Homo sapiens: one gene and its partners. The protein of the gene in region 7 purifies or fractionates together with the protein of the main gene of each other region. This does not show direct contact. Each region holds a gene or a part of one and is shown on either strand. Other genes may lie near its edges.

Region 1 (4,056 bases), on a different chromosome or scaffold from region 7:
GTTATTATAAATTGCATTCAGCAAGTAGTTCTGACTTTTGTAATGTGCAAATGACATTCAGCTGTAGGAACTCCAGCTTCTTAAGATTTTTGCTGATAATTTAGAGCAGTGGCTGCACAGCAAAATCACTCAGGAGCTCTGAAAAAAATAACTCGTCTTCCAGAGATTTTGATTTTGTTTTTCTGCAGTGAGGAAAATGTATCTGTAATTTTATAAGCTCTTACAGGTAATTCTAATGACTAGCTTAAAGGATTTTGAATGTCACTATCTTGAAGGATTTTGAATATTACACAAATAGGGCATAACTTGGAAATAGCAATGGACTGTGCAGTGTACCAGATCGGTGTCCATATTGTCAGAAAAAAATTGAGACTCCTTCTAAAAATGCATTTAAGAGCCAGGTGTGGTGGCTTGAGCCTGTAGTCTCAACTACTCAGGCGGCTGAGGTAGTAGGATGGCTTGAGCTCAGGAGTTCTAGGCTATAGTGCACAGTGATCACACCTGTGAATAACCACTGCACGCCAGCCTGGGCAACATGGTGAGACCTTGTCTCTTAAAATACAATGAGTTTCTTACCAGTCTAATCTAACTCCAGTGTGGTGAGGGGGTGGGACTAGACCTTGACCACAGTGCCCAAGTAGATAGGAAATGAATGTTGATTGAATATGTGAGTGAGTGAAGAGTTATGCTTCATTCACGACAGCAGATGCTTAATCCATATCAGAGAAGTGAAACTTTACTTTTAAAACCTGCCAAGCAAAAAGAAAGCACAATAGCTCACCATAACTTGTTCTGTAAAGCCTTTTGTACATTCCAAAGCACTTTCACATTAACTTTTCTCATTCATACATTTCAAATTTTAACAATACATATAGCCAGGAAGATCTTTTTTAACCCCAGTTACAGAAGAAAAGCTAAAACCACATAGCAGCCTGGCAGTAATATTTGATCAAGTTAGCGTGAGAAATTAGAAATAATATTTTTCAAAATATAACATTTGGGTCAGTTCAAATTAATGGTGAAAAGATGAGTTATTCAGTAAATGGTATTGGTACAGTTGGCTATCCATTTGGAAAATAAAGTTATGCAAAATAAATTCCAGATGGATGAGTTAAATTCAGATACAACGAGAATTTAGGGGATTTTTAAAATGTAATCATGGTATGGGGAAGGCCTAGAGCAGAACCCCAATCCAGAAGTCATAAAAGGAGCTACTGAGACTTACCTACTGTGGTAGGTAAAGACTTGCACTCTGATTTCATGCAATTTAGATTTATTTCCATTTCTGCTTATTGCAACTGTATGATCTTAGAACTAAAACTATCCTTTAAACATCCAAACAGATGTTTACTCAAGGAAATACATATTACAACAATGAGCTATCATTCTTTGCCTCTTAAATTGGCAAAAATTTAAAAGAATTGGAAAGAGGTGAAAAAGAGTACAGTCCCTCATATTCTATTGGTAAAGTATAAGTCATACTCTCTTTTTTTGTTTTTTTGAAGGGTAAATTGACAGTATCTATTAAAAGTTAAAATAAGTATGTCCTTTGACTCAGCAATTTCAGTCCTAAATATCTGTCCTAGAGAAATAATTATACATTTAAAAATATGTACTAGGATTGTTACTGAGGCATTATTCAAAATAGCTAAAAAACACAATATTCTAAATGCTTATCAATATGGAAATTGACCTGTTGGGGGTAAGTGGAGAAGGGAGATTCTTTTTTTTGAAGATCTATGGGTGTCGGTGATTTTGCTGTGAAAAACCACTAGAAATGTTTTTAGATAGTATTTTTCCTAACAATTGTTAGCTAGTGTTTTGTACTAAGGAGCAATTGTAAGGCATAGCTAATTTTAATCAAATGTAGTAGTTTGAATGTCTTTCTATAAACAAATTTTATAACTGCTTTTTTTTTTTTTTACAGAATGGAAACAGACTGTAATCCCATGGAGCTAAGCAGTATGTCAGGATTTGAAGAAGGTTCAGAGCTGAACGGTTTTGAAGGAACTGACATGAAAGACATGAGGCTCGAAGCTGAAGCAGTTGTAAATGATGTTCTCTTTGCTGTTAACAACATGTTTGTCTCGAAAAGCCTGCGGTGTGCGGATGATGTGGCCTATATCAATGTGGAAACAAAGGAAAGAAACAGATATTGCCTAGAACTCACTGAAGCAGGGCTCAAGGTAACTCACTTTTCCTTTTAGAAAAAAAAATTATTTATGTCTTTACCACTTTATCAAAAAGAGGGGTAGTGGGGAGGGGAAGAGTGTTAAAAGAGAACTGGATATTCAGTAGCTTCCAAATTTTTTTAAGAAAAACTTTTAACCTAGAAATTTTTATTAATTTTAAAGGCTTTTGATCGATATGGGGAAACAGAATTTTTTTGAAAAACATTTGATTTGCAGGGCGTGACTTTGTTTTAATCATGACCCCCAAAACTAATTTATTTCTCATCTATAGCTAAATGTGTTCACCAGAATTATACATACATTCTTTGCATTGAATGGGTTTTGCAGTCACTGTGTTGAAAAGATTTTCAACACCTCTTGAAAATGTCGCTTCTGTTAAAATAACATACTTGACAACACTGTTTTCCAACTCTGAGATCAGAAATAAATCAGAGCAGAACATTCCACCCCCAGATTTCCAAGAGTGTCCCATTAACCCTTTATTATGAGTATCTCTTTATTATGAGAGCTTTTCTAGGCGGATTAACCTTTCCATTCTTTAAACCAAAATCATGAGTTTAGAATAGTAGAAAACATCACCTGAGAGCAACTTTTAATTAAAAAAGAAAAAACTATAGGCCAGACCTGCGGGCTCTTACCTGTAATCCCAGCACTTAGGGAGGCCAAGCTGGTAGGATCATTTTAGAGCAGAAGTTCAAGACCAGCCTGGGCAGCATAGCAAGACCGTGTTTCTACAATATATTTTTTGTTAATTAACCCAACATGGCAGCACTTGCCTGTAATCCAGCTACCTGGGAGGCTTAGGAGGGGGCCTATGAGTTCGAGGTTGCAGTGAGCTAGGATTGGGCCACTATACTCCAGCCTGGGTACACAGACCCTGTTTAAAAAAAAAAAAAAACTATTATAAAATCTTTGACCTACTGAACAAAGGGATAGACATTAGAAAATCTAAAATCTAGTTTTAACCTTACTAATCAGTGAATCTTCAGTCTTAGAAAATGTCATACATTTCTGTGTTTCTATATTTATTCAAAGTAATTGTACATTATCATAAGGTGGTGAGCAAGGCCTGCCTAAGCAAGTAAGAATGTCACATGATATCAAGTACATAAACATCTCTTTAATTCGCTGGATTCACTTTGCTGAAGATGAGTCGTGTATACTGTATATTCCTTGATGGAGCAAATTGCAAGGCCAGCATCTGTACTACCCTCAGTTCCCTCACAGCTGCTGCAAAGATAGCTGCTTAGCTTTAAGCATAGTACCTGAATTAACTAATTTTTGTGCACTTCTTTTCACATCCTTAAATTTGTACTAAAAGCTCAGAGTATTTAGAGGTGAATCTTAAATCAGAAGTAGAGATAAATGACAGAATTAGTAAGATAATTCTGTCTTGTGTTGGTTAATTCTAAGTTGACTGTGGAGAGGTAGAAGGAGTTCTGATCAGAGAGTCAGCAGTCTTAAATGTGAATTTAAGTGATCTTGAGTGAGTCCGTCTACCCCTGAGAGAGTTTCTGCTTCTTAATCTATAACTTGGAGATTTAAAAAAAACTTAAAACGATTTGGGGAATGATTATATGACTGTATGATACAGAAAGATCTGAACCATATGTAAAACCTGACATGTAGTAGGTGCTCAAATATTTGTTTGTTTTTCAGTCTGATTCAGTTAACATTTATTGAGCAACTATCCTGTGTCAGCAATTGAAAATCAAACCATGCATAAGACATGATCCCTGTCCACCAGGAAGATCACAGTCTAGCAGAGATAAGAGGAAGAAGGCAAACTGAACTGTACTCCACTGTAGAGAGTGCAGTAATAGAGCATGGATCTGAAGAGGTGTGATTCATTTTCCTTAGGTGT
Region 2 (4,056 bases), on a different chromosome or scaffold from region 7:
CAGGAGGCTGAGGTGGGAGGATGGCTTGAGCGTGGGAGGCGGAGGCTGCACTGAGCTGAGATTGTTAACACTGCCGAGACAGACCTTGTATCAAAAAAGAAAAAAAAAAAAGAAAAAGAAAAATTTTGATCCCACTTCCCAAAAACATATCAGCTTATTCTAAGTAGCTGCCTTATTATCATTCTCTAAGACAAAGGTAATCAACCTATGCAAAATCTGCTACTATGCAAATTATCTGCTAACTATACTTTCATGGAGATTCCACAATGGGAGAAATATGGAGGTTGGGTCAGGTGCTACCTCAAGTTACAAGAAAGACACAAAAATTCGGTAACAGCCGTTGTCTCTGGGGTTTGAAGTGGAGATAATTTTTCTTTGTACAATATAGTATACAACAAGACCCTACATTATTCCCCTTCCCCCAAAATACATTCCCATTGGTCCTCTCTGGACAGGTCTCTTACTTCTCCTTCCCTCCCCTCAATCTCTTTTGTTCATTGGCAATAACCAGCCTCAGGGCCTTTGCACTTCCTACTCCTCATATCTACATGACTCCATCCTCCATTTCTCTTGGTCTCTCTCAAACATACCTTACACATGAGACCCTCCCTGACCACTCTATATAAAATAACCTCACCCCCACCCTGAGACGTTCTTTCCTCCATACTACTCATTCTACTTTACTTTTTTCTCAATAATATTACCACACTCTGACATACTACATATTTACTCGCTTATTATTTGTCTCTCACAACTAGAATGTAAGCTCTTTGAGAACAAACAGTAGGTCTATTTTGTTTATTGTTGTACTTCAGTGTATGGCATAAACAGACTCTCAAATTTCTTTTGAATGGAGATGTTTTACTTCCTTCTTCAATGAATACAAAAAGTTAAATTTTAGAAAAAAAAAACAACTTTCTTTTCTTTTTCTATACTTTTTTTTTTCCAACTGTGATCTTAGTTAGGCCTATGAAGAGGCCTAGGTAGTCTTACCTGCCTATTTGGCTGACCTTCAGCACGGTAGACATCCAAGAGGCCAACTGTGCCCCAGTTAACAAAGTAGTCAATAGAGAGCAGAACAGCAATGAGGTTACAGAACTTCCCCCATTCCAACAAAGCAGGAAATAAATCAGATTGGCACCAATTTCTCTTTTAAAATAGGCTATTTTAAAAGTGTACTGAATATACACCAGCTACTTTATTTCAATGAGATTTACTTCACTTGCAATGAAATGGGAACTGCAGGTGCTTTGATAAAGGTATTGAGAAGTTGACCTAGTTTCTATAACAATGTCTTATGTCCTCAACCATGAGAATATATTTTAGTTTCTTAAAATATGAGCTTCCTAAAACAAAAATCTTTTCTTTTCTTTTTTTTTATTTTTTTATTTTTTTTGAGATGGAGTCTCACTCTCTCGCCAGGCTAGAGTGCAGTGGCGCGATTTCGGCTCATTGCAACCTCTGCCTCCTGGGTTCAAGGGATTCTTCTGCCTCAGCCTCCTGAGGAGCTGGGACTACAGGCATGTGCCACCACGCCCAGCTAATTTTTGAAATTTTAGTAGACACAGGGTTTCACCACGTTGGCCAGGATGGTCTCAATCTCTTGACCTCGTGATCCGCCTGCCTCGGCCTCCCAAAGTGCTAGGATTACAGGTGTGAGCCACCGAGCCCAACCGTGTAACAAAAATCTTTCTTTTTTTTTTTTATTTTTTATTTTTGAGACGGAGTCTCACTCTGTTGCCCAGGCTGGAGTGCAGTGGTGCGATCTCCACTCGCCGCAACCTCCACCTCACAGATTCAAGCAATTCTCCTGCCTCAGCTTCCCGAGTAGCTGGGATTACAGGCGCCCGCCACCACGCCCGGCTAATTTTTGTATTTTTAGTAGAGACAGGGTTTCACCATTTTGGCCAGGCTGGTCTCAAACTCCTGACCTCAGGTGAACCACCTGCCTTCGGCCTCCCAAAGTGCTGGGATTACAGGCATGAACCACCACCGCGCCCAGCCACAAAAATCTTTTCACTCCACAAAGATACCTCCTAATGTGCTACTGCACTACAACATAGAACAACATAGAAAGCATAAATAAAACAGATGATTTACTCCGGAGAAAGTAATTTTTTTTTTGCTCAACTGTCAACTAAACCAAAATGAGTAATTAATCAAGAAATGCAGATGAAATCTAAAAATCAAAGATAAAACCAATCTGAATCACTAGAAGAGATCAGTCTTCTTGGATTACAATTGTATGCCTAAACTAGATCTAACTGAAATGAAGTGGTATCCTAACAGTTGTACCTTTAGCACATGGGTACAAGAAACAGAAATACGTCTTTATGTTAACTGTTAGTGAGGCAAAGCAACGCCCATGAAGACCTAAGGGAAAACCTAAAGGGAAAAAAAGGAAACCCAACCTAAAAGAAAAAAAAGATAGGGGAGGCAAGAGGAGGCAAAGAGAGACAAAGGAAGACACCACAGAGAACAGGAAAGCAAAAGAAAAGGAGAAAATACAGGAGAATTGGTAGAAGAAATTATAGGTAAAATAAATGTGAGGAACTGAATGTGGGAGGCTACAGAGTGCCAAAAGAAATTAGCTTAAATAGCCAGGCAAGGTGGTGTGTGCCTGTAGTCCCAGCTACTCCAGGGGCTGAAGTAGGAGAATCACTTGAGCCCAGGAGTTGGAGACAGGGCAACATACCAAGACTCTGTCTCTCTGTTTTTTTTTTTTTGAGACGGAGTCTCGCCCTGTCGCCCAGGCTGGGGTGCAATGACATGATATCGGCTCACTGCAACCTCCACCTCCCGGGTCCCGGGTTCAAGCGATTCTCCTGCCTCAGCCTCCCGAGTAGCTCAGATTACAGGCATGCACCACCATGCCCAGCTAATTTTTTTTTTTTTGTATCTTTAGTAGAGACAGGTTTTCACCATGTTGGCCAGGCTGGTCTCAAACTCCTGACCTCAAGTGATGCGCCTGCCTCAGCCTCCCAAAGTGCTGGGATTACAGGTGTGAGCCACCGCGCCCAGCCTCTGTCTCATTTTTAAAATAAAAATGTAAAAAAAAAAAATTATTCAAAGAAATTGGCTTAAGTACTATTTAGAACACTAGTTTCATGGGTTCTTAAGTATGAAGAAAAGGGAGGAAAAGAGAAGGAAAATTCCTAGGCTGGAATAAACCCGCAAGTTTCTAGGCAAGGTTGTATCTAACACATATGTATTTCCCACAGACCACAGCTTGGCTTTTCCACATATAAAAGCTGACTCCTTTCTTAGAAGCACACTTCTCACAGGAAGCATTCATGAACTCATGTCAGTTTTATAAATGTCCACAAATAAGGGTTGCAAATACAGAATGATGTCTGGCTGGGCTTGGTGGCTCACGCCTGTAATCCCAGCACTTTGGGAGGTCGAGGTGGGCGGATCACGAGGTCAGGAGATCAAGATCATCCTGGCTAACACAGTGAAACCCCGTCTCTACTAAAAATACAAAAAATTAGCCAGGCGTGGTGGCGGGCGCCTGTAGTCCCAGCTACTCGGGAGGCTGAGGCAGGAGAATGGCGTGAACCCGGGAGGCAGAGCTTGCAGTGAGCCGAGATCGCGCCACTGCACTCCAGCCTGGGCGACAGAGCAAGACTCTGTCTAAAAAAAAAAAAAAAAAAAAAAAAAAGGATGATGTCCACAAATCATACAAATCATTCTGTTTATCTTCCTCCCACTGACACTTCACTTTACTAAAGTTATCCATTCTCATACTACCGTTGTTTTGAACCTCACCCACACAACTCTCCAATATTACCTATTACTAATTTTTTCCCATTAAAAAAATTTAAAAGTTAGCTTTACCCACTCAGGAAGCCCATATATTCTGTAATGCAAGCACCTACATCTACCACAGATTCTCAGGTTTTAAGAGACCTTCGGACGGGCATGGTGGCTCACGCCTGTAATCCCAGCACTTTGGAAGGCCGAGGTGGGTGGATCATTTGAGGTCAGGAGTTCGAGACCAGCCTGGCCAATATGGTGAAACCCCCTCCTCTACTAAAAATACAAAAATCAGCCGGG
Region 3 (4,056 bases), on a different chromosome or scaffold from region 7:
AGTATTTTTCTCTCCTAAAAGACTGCTCCCAGTTCATTGGGAGGGCCTTCAGACCTGATGGGAGTAACATGATATCTGTCCATTAATGCCATAAGCGTTCAAATGGCCACCCCTAATAACAATAGTTATCATTTTCTGTGCACCTTCCAAGCGTTAAACTCTACAGGCATGTCTCATCATTGCAATAACTCTACCAGGCAGCAATCTTTGTCCTCATTTTGTGAAGCTAGGACACAAGCTCAGAGAGGTGAAGTAATGTGCTCAGGGTCACACAGCTAAGATGTCTGGGCAGTTCCCACCAACGCAGGCTGCCTCCCCTACGTCTTGACCTCACTATATTTCAAAGCTATAAGGCTGGGCCTCTTGCTGACTAGAAAAAAAAAAAAAAGAACATGCAAATCTTTGGGTACTCTAGATCATGGGTCAGCAAACTTTTTCTGTAAAAGGGCCAGACCGTAAATATTTTAGGCTCCATAGGCTACACACCCTCTCTGTTGCATATTCTTCCTTGTTTGTTTGTTATTGTTGTTTTTTAACAACACTTTAAAACTATAAAACCATTCTTAGCTCAGAGGCATACAAAAACAGACTGGGGCCTCCCCAGGACTGTAGTTTGCATCCATAAATACAGAAAGAATGTTTATAATCTCAAGTATAAAAACTTCTGGTGAAAGGGTTGATCAAATGCTAGCTGTATTTCTCCCCCTTCCAATGGCTTTCTACTGAGTCACTCTCTTTCCTAAAGAAGAACCTACTTTGCTACATAATTAAGCAGCAAAGTATTTTAAGGGCTGTTCAGATTCTAGAAACTCATAGCTGCAGATAAAATAGACAGATAAGTCAGATGTCAAAGACAAGACATTAAAAGATCTGGGCTCCAGGCTAGACCCTATTACTGTCACTGGGTCTTTAGCCCTGAACAAGGGACTTGCCTCTTAAGTCCCTTATCTCATAAGTATTGATTCTACACTAATAACAGATTGTTTTCAAATCTTGCAACTGAAAGTGTGATCCCTGGACCAGCTACATCAGCATCACTAGAAATGCAGAGCCTCAGGCCCCACCCCAGACTTGTGGAACCAGAATCTGCATTTTAACAAAAGCCCCAGGCGATCTTAGAATGCTCTAGAACATCTTTTTTGTCCAGCTGAAACACAGTTCATAAAATCTTTGTTAGCAATGAGGAGAGAAAGGGTCTAAAGACATCTTTCATGATGTCATGGTATTAAGTCTCTGACCTAACACATGTACCAGTGATTTCATAAAGCATTCCACTCTAGGACCAATTGACAGACCAAGATCTACCACTGGATCTTAAAATAAAACCTTAACCAGGTAGAAAGGAGACCTAGGGGAACAGGAAAATGTGTATTCCCCATATTATGGAGGGGTGGGGGCAGGGAATAGGTTAGAGAGAGAAATGACTTACCCAAGACCACACAACCAAGACAAACTAGGCGTATGACCACCACCAGGTTTCTTTCTTTCTTTTTTTTTTATTATACTTTAAGTTCTAGGGTACATGTGCACAACCTGCAGGTTTGTTACATATGTATACATGTGCCATGTTGGTGTGCTGCACTCATTAACTCGTCATTTACATTAGGTATATCTCCTAATACTATCCCTCCCCCCTCCTCCCACCCCACTACAGGACCCGACCACCACCAGGTTTCTTAATCTTCCTTAGTCAGGCCTTAGGTTTCATGAGAACTGAAATCATTTTGGTTTGGTAGAGCAGCAATCAGAGGGCTTGCTGTTGGCTTTGGGAAATTCACTTGCTCTCTCAGGGCACAAGTATCTGTAGCCATGAAGTGAGAGGGTAGAGCCAGGCGATTCCTAAAGCCCTGCTATAAAAGTCATGGTTTGGAAAGTTTTGAGATGAGGAGGCAGTCGGGGGGGTGCGCTATGCCAAGGGTCACCACAGTCACACCAAAGTCTCTGGGGGATGGGATCACAGAGCCAAGTCATTCGGTCCTTTGTGAGGAGGCTGAGGAGGGACCTGGCGTGGGCTCTAGCCATGCATCCCCTTGGGGCCACCTCAGCTGGTCACCACAGGCTGGCACGGATGCTAAGGATGTAGCCCATTTTACAGATGAGGAAAATAGGTCCTTGAGAGGGGCTAGGGCTTCTTACCAAAGCAAGGAATTCTTCCCTTCAACTGACAACAGTGCAAGGGTAGCCTGTATTAAGAAAACCTAACACATGAACACACAGATGTGTGCAAATGGTTGATTTGGGAATAATCAGGCTCTTTATAAATAGTGCATTATATTTTACCAACAGATTTGTTACAAAAAGGATTCATTCAGGGCTTTGATGGCAAGGCTCCCAATGCAATGCTTCTCACACTTGAATTCGCACACGAATTCCATGGGGATCTTGTGAAAATCCAGATTTGGATTCAGTAGACCCAAGGTGGGTAGGGTTGCCAGATAAAACATGAGATGCCCAGTTAAATCTAAATGTCAGAAAGACAATAAGATGTCTTGGTATAATTATGCCCCAAACATTCCAAGGGCCATACTCATGCTTAACTGGCACACTGTTTTTTATTTGCTAAATAAGGCAACCCTAAAGATGGAGTCTGAAATCCCACATTTCTGAAAAGCTCAAAGATGAAGCCTTAGTGCATTTAAAATGCAATTTAAATCTATGAAAACTATATTTTATGCAACCATGAATTTTATGGTCTCTTTTTTAAGACCACTGAACAGTCTAGGCAGGCATCTCCCACCTTCTAAAAGAGCATAGAAAGAATTCTGGCTGCCACTGGAACTGGGAACTTGCCTTCCAAGAGAAACAGGTACTGTGGTGGGAGGGGAGGTGGGAGGGGGATGGATACAGGCTAGCCCACAAAAGCCTGTTTTACCTCCGTTCTGAACGATACAGTTCCTTTGGACTACCAGTTCCTGAAGTGAAGCTCAGGACACCAAGAAACATGGCCGTTTCTTCTCTGAGTCCATGAAATGGGAAGGATCTGTCCCTACCTGCTTCCTTTCCAGGGCTCTTTGGAGTCAGATGAGATAATACAAATTCCCAGCATCCACATGATTGCACTGGCCAAGCATTGTGTTAGGTACTTTGTAGAATTCTGTGAAGTGGGTATTGAAGCCCTAACTGTATAGCTGAGAAAAATGAAACTCAGTGAGGTGATGTCCTCAAGGTCTTAGGGCAAGTGCAAAACATAAACCAGAAGGAGAACCAAGTTCTCTCCACTTCTTCGGCCTGGGATCTTAACTTGTTATGCTTTATTGCTGCTGAATTGTGCAAGTGTATTTGCCAAATGAATGAATGAAATGTAACGTTTCAGGAAAATGGTCGCTGTACTCTATTCTATAAAAGGACAGCTGAGCTTTTTATAACCAGCTTCAGATGCTCCTGAAGAATGCTGCCATTCTCACGGATGGCTGGTAGGAATAAGGACTACTGTAACCTTTATGAGCAGAAATTTGGCAAAATTTAGCATGACACAGATTATTTGCTTGGCCAAACTTTAGCCAGGCTTCTGAACCTTCTCCTAGGCCTACCTGTGCACTTCCTTGTAAAATCCAGTTTTAGCAAAAGAATCCTGCTAAGTCTGTTTAGCCAGAACCCCTCATCCTTGATATCTGATCAGGCTCCTCATCCTCCACCATGCCCCCACTGATGTTTGAATCACCCTGGTTTGTCTTCATCAATAATTTTGTTAGGTCGGTTTAGCAAGAATATCCCTTATTCCTGAGCTTCCTCTTAGTAATTTTCCATCCGCTGACCCCTACCCTGCTCTGCAGCTATCAATTCCCACTCGCCCATGCTGTATTAGGAGTTGAGCCCAAACTCTCTCCCTCACTGTAGGACCCTGTTGCAGTGGTCCCTATGCCCAAGGCAATGTTCCTGAATAAAGACTTCCTTACCGTGTTTTCACAAGTGTCACTGAATTTTTTTTTTAACAAGAAAAAGCTATAAAATGTGTCATTTTGACTCAGGAACTCCATTTCTAGGGCTCACTTCTAGGAAATAATAAAAGAAGAACACACAAAAAAAGTATGCACTAGGTTGTTCATTGCAGTATTG
Region 4 (4,607 bases), on a different chromosome or scaffold from region 7:
TTGAGCTCGAGTTCAAGACCAGCCTGGGCAACACAGTGAGAACCCATCTCTACTAAAAATATAAAAAATTAGCCTGGCATGGTGGTATGAGCCTGTAGTCCCAGCTACTCAGGAGGTTGAGGTGAGAGGACTGTTTGAGCCCAGGAGGTTGAGGCTGCAGTGAGCCAAGATCGTGCCACTGCACTCCAACCTGGGTTACAGAGTAAGACACCATCTCAAAATAATAAAATTAAATTAAAAAGAGAAAAGGGCAAGGCAGGAACTAGGAAGGGATTCAGCAAGGGCTCTATGCCTGGGAAGACAGGGCAGAGAGAGAATGAGGAGAGGAGGAGGGCTACTTCGGTCAAATCTAACCCCTGAGTGCTCAAACCAAGCCATTTTACAACTACCAAATACACTGCTGTAAAACCCTGTTTTTCTCTCCCAAGGCCATAGCTCAAGACTAGGTCAGTCTCAAAGGGGAAAGCAGGCTGGCTTCGCCTGTGCCCTCCCCATTTTGCACAAAAACGTCCAGATGAAAACCCACCTCCCTCCACCACAGCACCTCTTTGCTCTCCAGCCCAGAAAGCATTTCTAGAATACATTGTCTTTCCACAAAGGGAGTGGAAGCCCATCTTGCAGCTTCTAAAAACCTGGACTCAATTTTCTGATCTTGTGGAATAAAAACTTAGAAGCACTCAAGTCCTGTGGCTCTACTAGGATTCTGTGCCCATCAGCATTGGCCCAAACCATTTGTCCAGGTCCCCCCCCCCCGGTTTAGCCCAAGTGCCCTCTTTATTAAGGACATCCCCATATGCTTTTCTGCCCCTCTCCCACCTTCCACCAAAATGCCAAACCGTGCTCCAAAACAAAAGCCAAATTTATTCAGCAGACATTTTAATTATGAAATCCTATAAATCAGGACCACCACAATTTCAGACACTCCGTTGCGAAGTGTACATCAATAGCTACATCTGGAGGATGAACAAGCCATTGAATCTTTTAAAAATTGGTTTAGCTACCTTAAAGTTTGGGGGTGGCACCTTACAAAAGCGCCGTCAAGTTTCATACAGCCAGCGGCTTCTTCTCTGGGAGAGTCACATTTTAAAACCGGTTTCAGACACAAAAGAAGGGCTGGCACGGGAGGAGGAAATAAATTGTGAGGGTGAGGAGCCGCCGAGGCCGAGGCCCATGACTCCATGGAGGGCCAGAAGAGAGCAGAAAAACGTCCAGGGTCTCTCATGCATTCCTATAGACACCAGAAAGGGTGGAATAAGAAAGCTCAGCTGGGAGGACAAGAAAGAGACTCAAGAGATCGTTTATGACTGTTTCTGAGAAAGCTCCTGGCATGGCCATGAGTGGCCTTCCGGGAGTCCTGTAAAAAGGAAAGCACAGAAAACAGGAAAGAACTCTCCCTACACGTCCCTCTCTGCCTGTTTGTGTCCTCGGGAGACTCCAAGCGGTGGTAAAGCACCAACAGGGCTCTTCTTGGAGCAAGAGAAAGAAAAGACTCCGGGGTGAGTAAGCTCTCCCAGGAACCCCACAGCAAACCGTGACCTTGAACACAGATGGCAAGGTCAAGTCATTTACAAGTCCACATTCAAATCCAAATCTCCCACCTGCAAAATTCTTCACCTCTCTCCAGTCCCTTAATTGGAGTTCACATCTCCCACCTTCACCAGCCACCGAATCGGTGGGAAAAAGGGGCAATGCCAAGCCACCCACCACCAAACTTTTACATTCTTCTCCCCTCTGGAATTTCTTTGCACAGCAATTGTAGCACCACTTACTAAGCTCCTCCACCAGAAAATAAGAAAATGTATGCGTGTCGTTAGTTTTCAAGTATTGTTATAAAGCCATCGCGATTCCTACCCCTGAGCCCTCCTTAAACAATCCAAGCTCACGACGCCCCCAAGGGCTAAGTGAGGTACAAGTCGATGCAAGTAGCTGCCATAGTTCTCCCAGTTTATCCCAGGTCCTTGGGCTTGGATGGCCCGGGAAATTCTCATGCCCCACGGAAGCACCCTGGCGCATACATTTCTCCACGCTTAAGTTTTCTCCGACGGCCTCGCCGCGGCTGGTAACTTCTCTGGTTGAGATCTCTCCCCACGCGCCTCCCCGCAGCCAAAGTGGTCGCTCCCAGGCTGGCGACGTCGGCTTCAGCTCAGAGTTAGTAGGAACTGGACGCTGTTGGGTCTACGCAGCGGCCTCCACTTCCTCCTCCAGGAGGCCTGCGTCAGAGCAAGGAGCCTGAGGGCTGCAGGGCAATGCGGTCAGGTCCGCTGCGGCCTCCCCCGGGCCCAGGGGCGCTTGCGGGGCCCGTGGCTGCAACCGCGGCGACGGCTCGTTGGAGTCTCCGCACGGCTTCCTTGATGAGGTTTCCCGAGAGCACGAGCTGCTGGAGGAGCCGATGCGGGTCGTCGTCGCCGGCGCGTGCCCCGGCTTGGGTCCATCGGCGCTGCTGCAAGCGGCGGGAGGTGACCGCGTCCCTGAGCCATCCTCGCCGGCACGGCCCCGGCAGCGCGCTGGGGCCTGCGGCGACCTCCGCCACGCAGTAGGGCGCAGCGCGTCCGCGCACGCGGCCGCGGTCCCCTAGGGCGCAGCGCAGGGCCCCAGAGGGCGCCGGGCCCACCGTCTCAGCCGAAGCGGGCGGCAGCAGCAGCGGCACCGCCGGGGGCCGGGCCTTGTCCGCCGGCACCGCCGCAGCCAGGGGCCCCGGGGCCCGCAGCGGCACCCCCGGGGGCGCGCACGGCGAGGCCGGGCTGTCCTGCGCCGCGTCCAGCTGCAGCGTCTCGCCGATCTGGGCCACCAGCCGGTCCACCTCGCCCGAGCTGCCCAGCGTCACCGACTGCTGCAGCAGGAGGAAGCTGTCGTCCTCCTCTTCCTCCCCCTCCGCCTCCTCGCCGGCTTCCTCTTCCTCCTCCCTCCGGCACGGCATGGCCCCCCGTCCTGGCACCCGGAGCTGTGCGGGCTTCGCTGGGGGCTTGGTTGCCCGCGGGCGCGGAGCTGCGGGCGAAGCCGGAGCAGGGGCGGACGCGGAAGCCGGAGCCCGCCAGGCACTCGAGCCACGCGCCTGCAGCCGCTGGAGCCGGAATCCTGCCGGCTCGGGTTGATTTGTAAACAATGGGTGACGTCGCGCCGGGCCCTACCACCGCACCGGGGCGGGGGTGACGCGCGAGCAGGCACGGGGGCAAAGGGCGGCGCGGGCGGTGACCGAAGCCGTCCCGCGCCTGTGTTCGTTGTCCCTCCAGGAGGGGGTCCGGGGCGTGGGGACTGATTTCCGACCTCCCGGGCCCAACGAGCCGTGCTGAAACGTGGCGCCTCGGAGGAGGCTGAGGTTGGTTTCTCCCACGCACGGACACACCCACACCCACTCCGGGCCCGCCTCCTGGGCCGCGGCCTCCCTCCCCACGTGTCGGCCGCGCCTAAGCCCGCCCGACTCCCGCCCCGCGCACCCGCAGTTCCCGGCCCTGGTCGTGGGGGAGGGGCGGGCCGCCGCGGGTCCGGCTTCGACGAGGCGGGGCGGGGAAAGGCGGAGGGAATTGGGAGTGAAGAGGCGGCACGTTACTTATTTACTTATTTATTATTTAGAAAAGGTCTCTGTCGCCCAGGCTGAAGTATAGTGGCGCGAACACGGCTGACTGCAGCCTCGAACTCTGGCTTAAGTAATCATCCCACTTTAAGCCTCCGGAGCAGCTGGGACCACAGGCGCGGCCACCACGCCTGGCTAATTAAAAAAATTTTTTTTGTAGAGACGGTGGTGGGGGGGGGGGGTCTCACTATATTGCCCAGGCTGGTCTCGAACTCTTGGGCTCAAGGAGTCCTCGCTCCTCGGCCTCCGAAAGTGTTGGGGTTACTGGCGTCAGCCGCCGCGCCCGGCCTAAGAGGGGACGCTTTGAAGCAGAGCAGAATCGCTCTGAGGTGAGGTCCCAGAGGCTTTCCCTCCCGCAGTCTTCAAGCCCCCGGACATATCATGAGAATAGGACTCACCGCCGCTCGGCTAAAGAAGGGTCTTTTTTTTTTTTTAAGGTTCAAATAGAAATATAGGGGATTGGCCAGGAGCGGTGGGTGGCTCATGCCTGTGATCCCAACACTTTGGGAGGCCGAGGCGGGCGGATCACCTGAGGTCAGGAGTTCCAGACCAGTCTGGCCAACATGGTGAAACCCCATCTCTGCTAAAAATACAAAAATTAGCCGGGCGTGGTGGCGGGCGCCTGTAATCCCAGCTACTCGGGAGACTGAGGCAGGAGAATGGTTTGAACCCTGGAGGCGGAGGTTGCAGTGAGCCGAGATCACGCCACTGCACTCCAGCCTGGGCAACAAAGCGAGACTCCGTCTCAAAAAAAAAAAGAAAAATATAAGGGATGGAAAAAATCTCTCATGGTTCACATTTAAATTTTTTTCCTTTTTAGCCTTTGTTCTATGAAAGTGTAGTATACAAACACATGCATACAGTGTTACACACTTTTCCACTTTGCCTTACATCATAAACGTTTTTCGTGTTATTGCATGCACTTTGAAAACATTTTAATGATTACATAAGTTTCCATCAAGTGCCTATGTTTTTAACATTTGCCTAATTTCACCATCGTTAAGTGTGTAACTAACATTTTTGTGCGCGACACTTT
Region 5 (4,831 bases), on a different chromosome or scaffold from region 7:
ATACTGATGCCAGGACTGCAAATTTCTAAGGAGAGCCAGCTCCTGATTCCTGCCTCATGCCTGAGAACTGCACACACTACATTATCCAAGGGGTCCTGGATGAACACCTAAACTGCAATGCAGCCCCACCCTGAAGCAAAGATTTCTCCCCTCAGAAGTGAAAGATGAGTCACCATAAATAGGACATTTGGTTAAATGATTTTTTTTTAATGGAACATCCTATTGTCTCTGTGGCAGAGGCTATAGAAAATTTCTGTGGTATCAAATACTAAAAATATGGTAGCAACGGGAGACTTGGCTGGATTACCAGCTGTCTTTATCCTGCACAAAGAGGAGCATTCATGATTTTCTGAAAGTTATAATTAAACTGTAGTTTAACAGAAACATTCAAACTTAAGAGTGTATCTGTCTAAATCACCTCTCTCTCTTTACACAAGAAACTTAACGGTGTCCTCTGGAGAACTGGATGGAGAGGAGAAAAGAAAAATGATCTTTATCTTTTTCATTTCATATCCCTTTGGTATTTAAATTTGTTCATGAAATACACATTTACTACTTCTATAATTTAAAGCAATCTAGGCTGGGTGTGGTGGCTCATGCCTATAATCCCAGCACTTTGGGAGACCAAGGCAGGCATATCACTTGAGGTCAGGAGTTCAAGACCAGCCTGTCCAACATGGTGACACCCTGTCTCTACTAAAAATACAAAACTTAGCCAGGCATAGTGGCGCACACTTGTAATCCCAGCTACTCAGGAGGCTGAGGCAGAAGAATCGCTTGAATTCGGGAAGTGGAGGTTGCAGTGAGCCTACTCCAGCCTGGGCGACAGAGTGAGTCTATCTCAAAAAAAAAAAAAAAAAAATTAAAGCAATTTAAATTGTTGGCATCTACCAGTATGTCTTGCCATCAGTTCCCCTGTTAACCTTCCTAGAGTCTAATTTTCTCATTTCTCCAGGCCCTGGAGAGGCTATGTGATGATGCAAGCTCTAAGACACAATCTCACCTTTCACAAGTTCACAAGTTTGAAAGGAAGATCTAGATCTTGCTCCTTGGGGGATGAATGCAGGGAGAGAAAGGTCGAGATGCCAGCAGTATTGGAAAAATCAAGTATTTTTCCAGCTTCATATTGCTGTAGAGAATATACTATTCGGGCTGGGTACAGTGGCTAACACCTGTAATTCCAACACCTTGGGAAGCCAAGCCAGGGGGATTGTTTGAGTCCAGGAGTTTGAAACCAGATTGGGCAGCATGGCGAGACCCTGTCTCTATAAAAATACAAAAAATTAGCCCTGCGTGGTGGCACTGCCTATAGTCGCAGCTTTTTCGGGAGGCTGAGGTGGGAGGATCACTTGAGCCGGGGAGGTGATCACACCATTGCACTCCAGCCAGGGCAACAGAGTGAGACCCTGGCTGAAAATAAATAAACAAATACAAAATAAAAATAGAGAATATACTACTAACCTGGGGGTCGGGGGAGGCTCTGGAGGATATATGCTGGAGAGTAGATGCATGCAAAGAAATACTATTTGGTGAGGTTTCAGGTCCAAGGGCACTTTACCAAATGGTGGAAGAGACCAGTCATTTGGGTTACTGGGGGGTAAAATCCAACTGTTTAGCACTTAGAACGGTGCCCCAAAAACTCTACATTAGTCCTCCAATAAGCGCCCTGTGGTGGACTCAGAGGTAACAAAAAGGGATTGGTTCCAAATGGCCTTATGCATTGAAATAACTCCCCAAATTTGTTTTTCACAAGGAAAATGTCTATGTAATTGGTGTTAAAATGGACCTTCTCCCCAATTCAATATGAAGACAATTCATTTATTCCAGCAGCTGAGTCTGCAGCAGGAATTAGTGACTTTCAGGATTTGTTAAAGACCAGAATCTGTCCCTCAGGGGAATTTGTAGAGTTTAAGATATCTAAAAAGGAAAGCTCAGCAAGCCATCTATCTAGGTTTCTTCAGGGCAGTATAACTCAAAGTAGAGGGGCCGGGTGACCTCCTGGAGCCTGTCTCTGGTTAGCTTTTTGCTGCTAACTGGGGATAACAGCCTAATGCCTCATGACGGCTCAGCATGGCTGGGTGAGTCCAACTGAGTCAGAGAGCACCAAAAATAAGCCACAAAGCATTGAGTAGTCATATTTATGGTTTTGATTCCAAACACACTTTGTGCTTATCCCTTCCAAGTGGAGAATTTTTATGTCATTTGTGTGCGTTAAGGCCAAAGGAGAAACCTGGAGGCAAAGGAATGCTGGTTGTGGGTCAACAAATATGCCTGATGGATTTTGTATGTTTGGCTTAAAAACACTGACTTAAAGTAAAATACTGTGACTACTTCTAACCTAGAAATGAGTTCAGCCCGCCAGACAGAAACTGCCATTCGGAGGAAATAAGGCCGTGAGCACCGGTTCCCTCCACACCCCCGAGGTTCACCTGGAGGCCAGTGGGCCAAGCGAAGCCTTGGGAGCGGAGAACTCAAAGAGGGGCGGGGAGAAAAGAATAAACACACCTCGCGGGGCTAGGCTGGCGGCGGCACAGTCCTGGTTTTTTTGATGGAACTGACCAAGATGACAGCAAGCAGAGGCTCAAATGCAGGATTCAGACCCAAGACTTCTCCCCGCTCTCAGGCGGACCCCAAAGGCGGGGAGCCAAAAACCGGGAGACTGAACAAGCAGCATTCTCACGCTCCTAAACTGGCTTCTCGCTCCTCGCTCCTCATGCCCCAAAACTGATCAGGCCCCAACCCCCCTCCCCACAACTCAGTGTTCCCTCCACACGGACCGTCGAGGCTCCCCCAGATCCCACGTCTTCGTCCTTCCTGGACCCCGTGCTCCATTCCTTACAGTCACAGACAGGGATTCGTTACCTGCAGAGCAGCTCGACAACCCTGCAGGTAGTCCTCCATGATGAAGCCCAAAGTACGCCGTCGCCCCTGGTCGAGTAGAGGTGCCCCTGGTCGAGGAGAGGTTTCCCCGACGAATGCAGCCCGCCCGGGACTCAGGGACTAGAGGCCAGAGTCAGGAGGCGGGACTCGAACCCGCCACACGGCGAATCGGCCTCCGACCCCGGGAGGAACTGCGTAAGCGGGCGCTCCGGAGTCCGGCGTCGCCCCGCCCCCAGCGGCGGAGGCGGGGCTCTACGCCCAGAGGCTCCTGGGACGTCTTTCCGGCGAGGCCAAGGGGGCGTGGCGTGGGGCGACGTGGGAAACGTAGTCCCGCAACTCCGCAATGTCCCTAGCAACCGAGGGAAGGATTGTTTTCTGAGGGATCAGTCGTTCGGTAAACAAATGTGTATGTGTCACAGTAACCCATTATTGTGGCATCTGAACTTTCCCTCTCAGATCAGGCCAAGTATAACATCTTTACATATATCACACCGAGCATCTGGTGACATTTTAAATGACACTTGGCAAAACAGATCATCTTCTTTCTACAAATTCTGCCCTTTACCAAACTGACTCAGTCGCCACCAATTTTGTGGTTGTTCATGTTAGGAGAACATTAGAATAATCTTTGACCCCTCTTGTTAACACCTACAGTCTCCTGCCAACTCCTGCTGCTTCTCCCTTTGCAACTCTGTAGCCTGTTTTTTTCTACAGCCTCGGCAAATATCTTCTTCCTTTCTTGGACGGTTGTAACCTTGGCTTTTTGCTCTCTGCCACCCTAATTGTTCCAATTGCTCTTTCAGCCTTTAGAGTTGCTTGAAATTTCATCCTGTGGCGGCCCTGTACATAGAGTTTAGGGAACCCTTCAGAATGTGGAGTTAGGTTCCAACCTCCCTTAACTGCCACTTTCCAGCCGCAGAGTAGTGCAGGTACTGCAAATAAATGGACACTCATCATCAAAAATTCCCTCATTTATTTATCTATCCCTTTATTTCCTACCGTCAGCCTCACACCAGCTTTTCCTGCTTCCCCAGCTGTAAATCGAGAGGAGGTGACTGATGAGAGGCCTGCAGTGGAACCAAGATCCAGAGCACAGGCGTGTTGGATCTCCTGCCTGCTCTGCCAGTTCTTTTCTTCTTCTTCTTCTTTTTGAGACGGAGTCTTGCTCCGTCTTCAGGCTGGAGTGCAGTGGCAGGATCTTGGCTCACTGCAACCTCCACCTCCCGGGTTCAAGCGATTCTCCTGCCTCAGCCTCCCGAGTAGCTGGGACTACAGGCATGTGCCACCATGCCCTGCTAATTTTTGTATTTTTAGTAGAGATGGGGTTTCACTATGTTGGCCAGGTTGGTCTTGATCTCTTGACCTTGTGATCCGCCCGCCTTGGCTTCCCAAAGTGCTGGGATTACAGGCGTCAGCCATCGCGCCCAGAGCCTGGGGCTTCTACCACACCCTCTGCACTCTACCAGGTGCACAACCCAACCAGTTTCATTTCTAGACTTAAAAATGATACAGCAAGGACTTGGAAAGGAGCTCTCTGGAGGGCTCCAGAGGGAAAAGAGCTGGGTTTGTTTGTTTGTTTTTAACATTAATTGAGTAATACATGCAAATATCGTGCTCTTTGCTCCTGCTTCTGTGGATCCAGAGCAAAGGACTGCCATACCCAGAGAGAGAGCCCAGATCCAACAAGCTGCTTCTGTCCAGCCCTTCTCCTCCCTACTTAGCAAGGGCACTTGCTCTTCCCTATTCTCACCAGAGAGGCACAAGCGCTCCGTCCCTTCTAGAGGCAGGCAGAGGGAAGAGAAAGGGTCTGTTGTTTTTCTCTCCTGTTTCTCGCTCCCTCTCTGCTGATCACAAAGCTGCTGACCGGGTCAGAAAGTCCTGATGGAAATCCACCAGCGCTGGGCAGGCCCCTCCTCCTCCAGGGAGCTTGTCCTTGCCTAATTTTTCTTCG
Region 6 (4,056 bases), on a different chromosome or scaffold from region 7:
GCAACATGGATCAATATGAAAAACACACATCCCTTACCCAACAATTTTACTTCCAGGAACTTACTTGACCACCAACCTCACTGTTAACAAACAAGTCTGCCCTCAAGACACATAATATTTGCAGAATTCTGTGGACAGAGGATTTAGTACACACTGCTTTCATCCTGTGATTGCCCTAAGTACTTTCAGAAATGTAAACAGTCCTGACACATGTGGTCTTTGAATATGGTCAAACACCTCATTCTTCAGCTTTGGTATCTCATAACAAATTGTTGCATAAAGTATGAAAAATACATATTGGTGATACTATTTATTTATTTAGTCTCTTCTTGCAAAGAGAAGAAATAAACAAAAGGAGAAAGGCTCATGTCTGGAATCCCAGCAATTTAGGAGGCTGAGGAGGGAGGACTGCTAGAGCCCAGGAGTTTGAGACCAGCCTGGGCAATGTGACAAGACTCTGTCTCTATAAAAAAGGAGAAAGTGAATAGTGTCTTGTCTCAAAAAAAAAAAAAAAAAAAAAAAAAAGAAGAAAGTGAGTAGAAAGAGAGCTTTTTGGATATCTAAATAAAAGCTGACAGGGCCAGGCACAGTGGCTCACGCCTGTAATCCCAGCACTTTGGGAGGCCAAGGCGGGGGGATCACTTGAGGTCAGGAGTTCGAGACCAGCCTGGCCAATATGGCAAAACCCCATCTCTACTAAAAATACAAAAATTAGCCGGGCGTGGTGCCTGCAATGCCAGCTACTCGGGAGGCTGAGGTAGGAGAACTGCTTGAACCTGGGAGGCGGAGGCTGCAGTGAGCCGAGTTTGTGCCGCTGCACTCCAGCCTGGGCAACAAGAGTGAAACTCTGTCTCAAAGAAAAAAAAAAAAAATTAGCCAGGTGTGGTGGTGCATGCCTGTAATCCCAGCTACTCAGGAGGCTGAGGCAGGAGAATCGCTTGAACATGGGAGGCGGAGGTTGCAGTGAGCCAAGATTGCGCCACTACACTCAGCCTGGACAACAGAGCCAGACTCCATCTGAAAAAAAAAAACAAAACACCAAAAATTAGCCGAGTGTGGTGGAGCATGCTTGTAGTCACAGCTACTCGGGATGCTGAAGTAGGAGGATGGCTTGAGCCCCTGGGAGGCAGAGGTTGCATTGAGCCAAGATTGCACCACTGTACTCCAGCCTGGGCAACAGAGCCAGACCTTGTCTCATAAAATTAACTAATTCATTAATTAAAACTGCTCAAACCTTGGGTGAGGTGTGGCTTCTTACAAGACCAAAAGCGTCAAAAAAAAAATAGTACAATGTTGGGGCCAGGTGGTTCACACCTGTAATCCCAGTACTCTGGGAAGCTGAAGCAGGACTGCTTGAGGCTAAAGGTTCAAGGTCAGCCTGGGTAACATAGTAAGACCCCAACTCTACAAAAAATACCAAAAAAATTAGCTGGGTGTGGTGGTACAACTTGCAGTTGTACCTACTGGGGATGTTGAGGCAAAAAGATCACTTGAGACCAGGAGTTTAAGGCTACAGTGAGCTACAATCACACCACTGCACTCCAGGTTGGGCAACAAAGCAAGAACCCTGCTTCACTGATAAGAATAAGAAGGCGGAGAAGAAGAAGAAATTGGACTACATCAACATGAAAAGCTTTTGTACTGAAAATGATACCACCAATAAAATTAAAAGCCATAGAAATTAGAAAAAATATTTGCAAATCATATATTTAATAAGGGACTTATATGCAGTATATATAAAGAACACAACTTGGCTGGATGCAGTGGCTCACGCCTGTAATCCTAGCACTTTGGGAGGCTGAGGTGGGCGTATCACAAGGTCAGGAGTTTGAGACCAGCCTGGCCAGCATAGTGAAACCCCGTCTCTACTAAATATACCAAAAAAAAAAAAAAAAAAAAATTAGCTAGGCGTGGCGGTGTGCGCCTGTAGTCCCAGCTACTCGGGAGGCTGAGGCAGGAGAATCGCTTGAACCTGGGAGGCGGAGGTTACAGTGAGCCGAGATGGCATCACTGCACTCCAGCCTGGGTGACAGAGTGAGACTCCGTCTGAAAAAAAAAAACAAAACAAAAACAAGACCAAAAAAAGATCACAACTCAATAACAAAAGGCAACTCAATTTAAAAGCACGCAAAGGATTTAAACAGACATTTCTCAAAAAAGATATATGAATGGCCAATAAGTACACAAAAAGATGTTTAACGTGATTAGTCATCAATGAAACACAAATCAAAACATAAGACACCACTTCGCACCCACTAGGATGGCTAAAAGAAAAAAGGCAGTAACAAGTATAGGGACATAGAGCAATTGGAATCCTCATATACTGCTTGTGAATATGTAAAATAGCGCAGCCACTCTGGAAAGTAACCTGACAATTCCTCAAAATATTAAACACAGACATGGTGGTTCGTGCCTACAGTCCCAGCTACCAGGGAAGCTGGGGCAGGAGTATTGATTGAGCCCAGGAGTTCAAGGACAGCCTACACAACATAGCAAGACCCTCATCTTAAAAAAAAAAAAAAAAAAAAAGCCAAAAAAAGGCCATGAACAGTTTCATTCATGCAATCCAAGCATTTCAGGGGGCCAAGGCAGGAGGATCACTTGAAGCAAGGAGTTCAAGACCAGCTTGGGCACCAAAGTGGGACTCCATTTCCACAAATTTTTTTTTTTTTTTGGAGACGGAGTCTCGTTCTGTCACCCAGGCTGGAGTGCAGTGGCGTATCTCAGCTCACTGCAAGCTCTGCCTCCCGGGTTCGTGCCATTCTCCTGCCTTTGCCTCCCGGGTTTATGCCATTCTCCTGCCCCAGCCTCCCGAGTAGCTGGGACTACAGGCATCCGCCACCATGCCCGGCTAATTTTTTGTATTTTTAGTAGAGACGGAGTTTCACCACGTTAGCCAGGATGGTCTCGATCTCCTGACCTCGTGATCCGCCAGCCTTGGCCTCCCACAGTGCTGAGGTTACAGGCGTGAGCCACCACGCCCAGCAAAAAAATTTTGTTTAATTAGCCTCGTGTTGTGGCATGTGCCTGTAGTGGCAGGAGGCTGAGGCGGGAGGATTGCTTGAGCCCAGGAGTTCAAGGCTGCAGTGAGCCATGATTGCACTGCAATACAGTCTGTGTTACAGAGTGAGACCTCATTAAAAATAAATAAATAAATAAAAGTTAAAAGAGCTGGGTGCGGTGGCTCAAGCCTGTAATCCCAGCACTTTGGGAGGCCGAGGTAGGTGGATCACCTGAGGTCAGGAGTTCAAGACCAGCCTGGCCAACTTGGCGAAACCCAGTCTCTACTAAAAAATACAAAAAATTAGCCGGGTGTGGTGGTGGGCGTCTGTAATCCCAGTGACTCAGAGGCTGAGGCACAAGAATCGCTTGAACCTAGGAGGCAGAGGTTGCAGTGAGCCGAGATGGCGCCACTGCACTCCAGCCTGGGCAACACAGAGAGACTCCGTCTCAAAAAAAAAATAATAATAATAATAAAAAGTTAAAAGTTACCACACAACCCAACAATCCCACTTCTTGCTCTATAACCAAGAGAAATAAAAATAAATGCCCACACAAAAACTACTACACTAATGTTCATAGCAACATTATAATAGCCAAAAAGTAGAAATGACCCAAATGTCTATCAGCAGATGAATGCAAATTAAAAATGTGGTAGATACAGAGATATGATGGCATATTATTGATCAATAAAAGGAAAAGAGGCAACGAGCACATGAAAAGACGCTGAACTCATTAGTCACTAGGAAAATGCAAATCAAAACTACAAAGATGCATCACTTCACACCCAAGTAGGAGGGCCTAACCAGAAAAACAGAAAATAGTACCTGTTTATGAGGATGATGAAGCATTTGAACCCTCATACATCACTGGTGGGAATGTAAATCGGTACAACCACTGTGGAAGTTTCGCGGTTCGGTTAAGTTAAACACAGAATTGACTGTGTATGACCCAGTAATTCCACTCCCAGGTAAAGAACTGAAATCAGATGTTCAGACCAAAACTTGTATGCAAATGTTCAGAGAAGTACTACTCAAAATAAGCAAAAGGTGGAAA
Region 7 (4,056 bases):
GCCCTGCCCCCAGAGGTGGAATCTAGAGAGGCAGTAGGCCTTGCTCAGCTGTGGTGGTCTCTGCCGAGTTTGAGCTTCCCTGCTGCTTTGTTTACACTGTGAGCATAGAACTGCCTACTCAAGCCTCAGCAATGGCAAACGCCCCTCCCCCCACCAAGCTCCCACATCTTAGGTTGATCTCAGACTGCTGTGCTGGCAGCGAACAAGGCTGTGTGGGCGTGGGACCCGCCGAGTCAGGCATGGGAGGGGATCTTCTGGTCTGCCTGTTGCGAAGAGCATTGGGAAAGTGCAGTATTTGGGCAGGAGTGTATCGCTCCTCCAGGTACAGCCACTCATGCCTTCCCTTGGGTAGGAAAGGGAAATCCCCCAACCCTTTGCACTTCCCAGGTGAGGCAATGCCCCACCCTGCTTCGGCTCGCCCTCCATGGGCTGCACCTGCTGTCCAACCAGTCCCAGTGAGATGAACCAGGTACCTAAGTTGGAAATGCAGAAATCACCTGTGTTCTGCAAAGATCTTCCTGGGAGTTGTAGACCAGAACTGTTCCTATTCAGCCATCTTGGAAGCGACCATGAATGCCATCTTACAAATGAAAGTGTTAATTGGTCACAGACATTCACTGGCTTTTGTGTATATTAATACTTCTGTGAATTTAAATGGATATAAATATTGGTTATAATATTCCACTAGTGCATTTGGATATTCATTTATCTAGCAATTTATATTTCACAGAGAAAAATACTCATAAATATTATATTACTTTTCTTTTATTAGGTTAATTGGAATTCAGTTAGTATTTTAGAAAGGAAATTGTAATGGAAGAATAACAGGAAAAAATAAAAGTCCAATAAGTGAGCCTAAGGACTTATATTGTACTGAGAATTGGTTTTAGATTTGTCAGGGAAGAGAGAAGAAACAGTAGACATTTTTGTGTACGTTGAAGTCACTAAAAGAACAATGTAAAGCTCTTTTAGATCAGATACTAGGTAGCATAATACACAGAATCGATTAAGAATTCAGAAAACAAGATGGTGACTGTGGACTATCCCTAGTGAAGTAGGAGGTGGCTCTTGTGCCTGAATTGAAGAGAGCCGTTGGATTGCTACTGGGGTGAGAGAAGGCAAAAAAGGAAAGAAGAGGTCTGTGAGTGAATAGAGACCCTGGAGCCAGTGATATGCTTATATAATTGGGCCTCAGTTCAGAATGGGTTGGATTATTTAAATTTTTATATCTGTTAACCCCAAATTAACATTCTTTTCTCCACCTGAGCTTTCTCTGAGAGGTCTTCTACTTTGCTAAAAAGAAGATTCAGGGAAGCAAACACTCAAAGCCTTACTTTCCTAAATGCAGAAGGATCTGAAGAGAGAAGTTTTAAACATTTTTATTTGCACATATTTTATTTTCAAGTAAAATAAGGTCTTGAAGAAAGCCCTAAGGCCTTTTAGAATTGGATGGATAAGGTCAGACTCTTATGGGTTCACCTTTTGCTATTTGACCATGGGCAAATTTAACATTCTTCCTATTACCTATAATATGGGAACAGTACTGTCTACCTCATGGGGTTGAAACTAAGCATTGTGTCTGGTCTATAGAATGACTGAATACATGGGAGTTTAAAAAATGACTTATAATTGAAACAAGTAATTGAAGTAATTACATGTAATAAACTAAAAATAATTTGTAGTAAAGAATATAGTTTACTTTGACCAGGCGTGGTGGCTGATGCCTGTAATCCCAGCACTTTGGAGGCCAAGGAGGGCGGATCACCTGAGGTCAGGAGTTCAAGACCAGCCTGGCCAACATGGTGAAACCGCGTCTCTGCTAGAAATACAAAAATTAGCCAGACGTGGTGGCAGGTGCCTGTAATCCTAGCTACTCGGGAGGCTGAGGCAGGAGAATTGATTGAACCCGGCAGACGGAGGTTGCAGTGAGCCGAGATTGTGTGACTGCACAACAGCCTGGGTGACAAGAGTGAGACTCCATCTCAAAAAAAAAAATAAAATAAAAAATAAAGAATATAGTTTACCTTGTATATTTTGGCAGTTTTCTCTATTTAATTCCTTACAGTTCTCGTGAAAAAAAAATTTCCTTTCTTCCTTTAGGAGACAAGGACGGCAGCAAGGTGACAACAGTGGTGGCAACTCCTGGGCAGGGTCCAGACAGGCCACAAGAAGTCAGCTATACAGACACTAAAGTGATTGGAAATGGATCATTTGGTGTGGTATATCAAGCCAAACTTTGTGATTCAGGAGAACTGGTCGCCATCAAGAAAGTATTGCAGGACAAGAGATTTAAGGTAAAATGTCCAGTATTTCATATATTTTGTTGCTGTCGTAATACATATACCATAAATGATTATTTTTTTAGTTGCTTCTTTTTGCTTCAAATTTCTTCTATTGTGCGCATTTTTGTTCAGCTCAACCATTGTAGTGATTTTATTTCTAGTCATGTATTTTGTAGAGATAACATTCACTGAAGATTGCAGTATTACTTTTGTAGTCATTACAAATGACATATGTAATATATGTATTTTTTAATCCTGTGAAAGGTAAGTTAAAATTTCTTAATTTATACTATAAAAAGTGACCTGTCCTCACCGTTGTACTGTGTTGATGTAGACCAGAGGAACACTGCCTGTAGCATATAAGCATTTTATGTATTTGACTATGCTTCCTTTTTTCAAAAAATTTTTTTAATCCATGTTGCAACTTGTGTTAGTCTGTTTTTGCATCTCTATAAAGGAATACCTGATATTGAGTAATTTATAAAGAAAAGAGGTTTAATTGGCTCACAATTCTGCAAACTGTACAGGAAGTGTGGTGCAGACATCTGCTTCTAGTAATTGTCTCAGGAAACTTCTAATCATGGGCAGAAGGTGAAGGGCGAGTAGGTGCATCACATGGCAAGAGCTGAGCGAGAGCATGAAGGGGGAGATCCAGACTTTATTATTATTATTATTGTTATTACTATTTTGTAGAAACGGGGTTTTGCCATGTTGTCCAAGCTAGTCTCAATCTCCTGAGCTCAGGCAAGTCGCCTGTCTCAGCCTCCCAAAGTGCTGGGATTACAGGCGTGAGCCACCATGCCCGTCCCCAGACTCTCTTAAATAACCAGATCTCCTGTGAACTAACTGAGTGGGAACTCACTCATCAACAAGGGGATGGTGCTAACCCCATTCATGAGTGGTTGACCCCCTTGATCCAATACCTCCCACCAGGCTCTACCCCGTCTCTACTAAAAATACAAAAAATTAGCCGGGTATGGTGGCGGGCGCTTGTAGTCCCAGCTACTTGGGAGGCTGAAGTAGGAGAATGGCGTGAACCCGGGAGGCAGAGCTTGTAGTGAGCCGAGATCGCGCCACTGCACTCCAGCTTGGGGGACAGAGTGAGACTCTGTCTCAAAAAAAAAAAAAAAAAAAAAAAAGGAGATTACATTTCAACATGAGGTTTGGAAAGGGATAAACATCCAAACCATATTACAACACTATCCATTTTTCTCGTAACTTTTTTTTTTTTTTTTTGCTATCTTCCCTTTTTTTTCTTGTCCTTCTGCCTTTAGACACTAGCAATCCCAAAATTCAGTTCTCGTCATGTATTTTCATTTTCTGTACCTCATTAGGGGAGCCTATGCATGGAAGCTCAGATGTCATCTCTATGTTGTGGTATAGCAGAGAGAGTCAGAAGACACCGGGTGTAATTAAGCCTCTGTCACTATGCAGCGTTGCTCCCTTTACTACTCTTCCAACCTCTGCAACATTTTAGTGGGAGCCTCCAATGTACCAAGATCTATGGTAAACATGAAGGGATATAACAAGAAGAAGTGATCACTGTTCTGGTATAACACTAGTTATACCACATTCTAGTGTCCATCTGCTGTAAATATCTGGAACATTCTAAAGAATTTTTAAAAATTCAGTTGTTTTTGTTTTCAGTTCTCACCTCTCCCCCAAGTACTAGTCTCATGTTGTCAAATGCCCACTGGATCTTGATATCTGAATATTGTACTGTTATCTCAAATTGTCAAGCCATCTTATCTAACTATGACTTAACTTTTAAGAC

The links.
Region 1: the proteins of GSK3B (region 7) and GSKIP purify together in Homo sapiens (affinity purification with mass spectrometry; 10 studies listed by BioGRID and IntAct, with this or other methods). This does not show direct contact.
Region 2: the proteins of GSK3B (region 7) and CTNND1 purify together in Homo sapiens (affinity purification with western blotting; 2 studies listed by BioGRID, with this or other methods). This does not show direct contact.
Region 3: the proteins of GSK3B (region 7) and GSN purify together in Homo sapiens (affinity purification with mass spectrometry; 2 studies listed by BioGRID and IntAct, with this or other methods). This does not show direct contact.
Region 4: the proteins of GSK3B (region 7) and FRAT2 purify together in Homo sapiens (affinity purification with mass spectrometry; 2 studies listed by BioGRID and IntAct, with this or other methods). This does not show direct contact.
Region 5: the proteins of GSK3B (region 7) and PRUNE1 purify together in Homo sapiens (affinity purification with mass spectrometry; 5 studies listed by BioGRID and IntAct, with this or other methods). This does not show direct contact.
Region 6: the proteins of GSK3B (region 7) and USP48 purify together in Homo sapiens (affinity purification with western blotting; 2 studies listed by BioGRID, with this or other methods). This does not show direct contact.

What each region holds. Positions count from the first base shown.
Region 1 is NC_000014.9:96,380,320-96,384,375, forward strand, and holds part of GSKIP (GSK3B-interacting protein), read left to right. Parts: intron 1-1,927; 5' UTR 1,928-1,928; coding exon 1,929-2,186; intron 2,187-4,056. UniProt on the Homo sapiens protein: A-kinase anchoring protein for GSK3B and PKA that regulates or facilitates their kinase activity towards their targets.
Region 2 is NC_000011.10:57,767,992-57,772,047, reverse strand, and holds part of CTNND1 (catenin delta-1), read right to left. Parts: intron 1-4,056. UniProt on the Homo sapiens protein: Key regulator of cell-cell adhesion that associates with and regulates the cell adhesion properties of both C-, E- and N-cadherins, being critical for their surface stability.
Region 3 is NC_000009.12:121,274,384-121,278,439, reverse strand, and holds part of GSN (gelsolin), read right to left. Parts: intron 1-4,056. UniProt on the Homo sapiens protein: Calcium-regulated, actin-modulating protein that binds to the plus (or barbed) ends of actin monomers or filaments, preventing monomer exchange (end-blocking or capping).
Region 4 is NC_000010.11:97,331,656-97,336,262, forward strand, and holds FRAT2 (GSK-3-binding protein FRAT2), read right to left. Parts: upstream 3,075-4,607; 5' UTR 2,918-3,074; coding exon 2,216-2,917; 3' UTR 842-2,215; downstream 1-841. UniProt on the Homo sapiens protein: Positively regulates the Wnt signaling pathway by stabilizing beta-catenin through the association with GSK-3.
Region 5 is NC_000001.11:151,006,703-151,011,533, reverse strand, and holds the start of PRUNE1 (exopolyphosphatase PRUNE1), read right to left. Parts: upstream 3,086-4,831; 5' UTR 2,902-3,085; coding exon 2,863-2,901; intron 1-2,862. UniProt on the Homo sapiens protein: Phosphodiesterase (PDE) that has higher activity toward cAMP than cGMP, as substrate. Plays a role in cell proliferation, migration and differentiation, and acts as a negative regulator of NME1. Plays a role in the regulation of neurogenesis.
Region 6 is NC_000001.11:21,776,094-21,780,149, forward strand, and holds part of USP48 (ubiquitin carboxyl-terminal hydrolase 48), read right to left. Parts: intron 1-4,056.
Region 7 is NC_000003.12:120,000,284-120,004,339, reverse strand, and holds part of GSK3B (glycogen synthase kinase-3 beta), read left to right. Parts: intron 1-2,100; coding exon 2,101-2,294; intron 2,295-4,056. UniProt on the Homo sapiens protein: Constitutively active protein kinase that acts as a negative regulator in the hormonal control of glucose homeostasis, Wnt signaling and regulation of transcription factors and microtubules, by phosphorylating and inactivating glycogen synthase (GYS1 or GYS2), EIF2B, CTNNB1/beta-catenin, APC, AXIN1, DPYSL2/CRMP2, JUN, NFATC1/NFATC, MAPT/TAU and MACF1.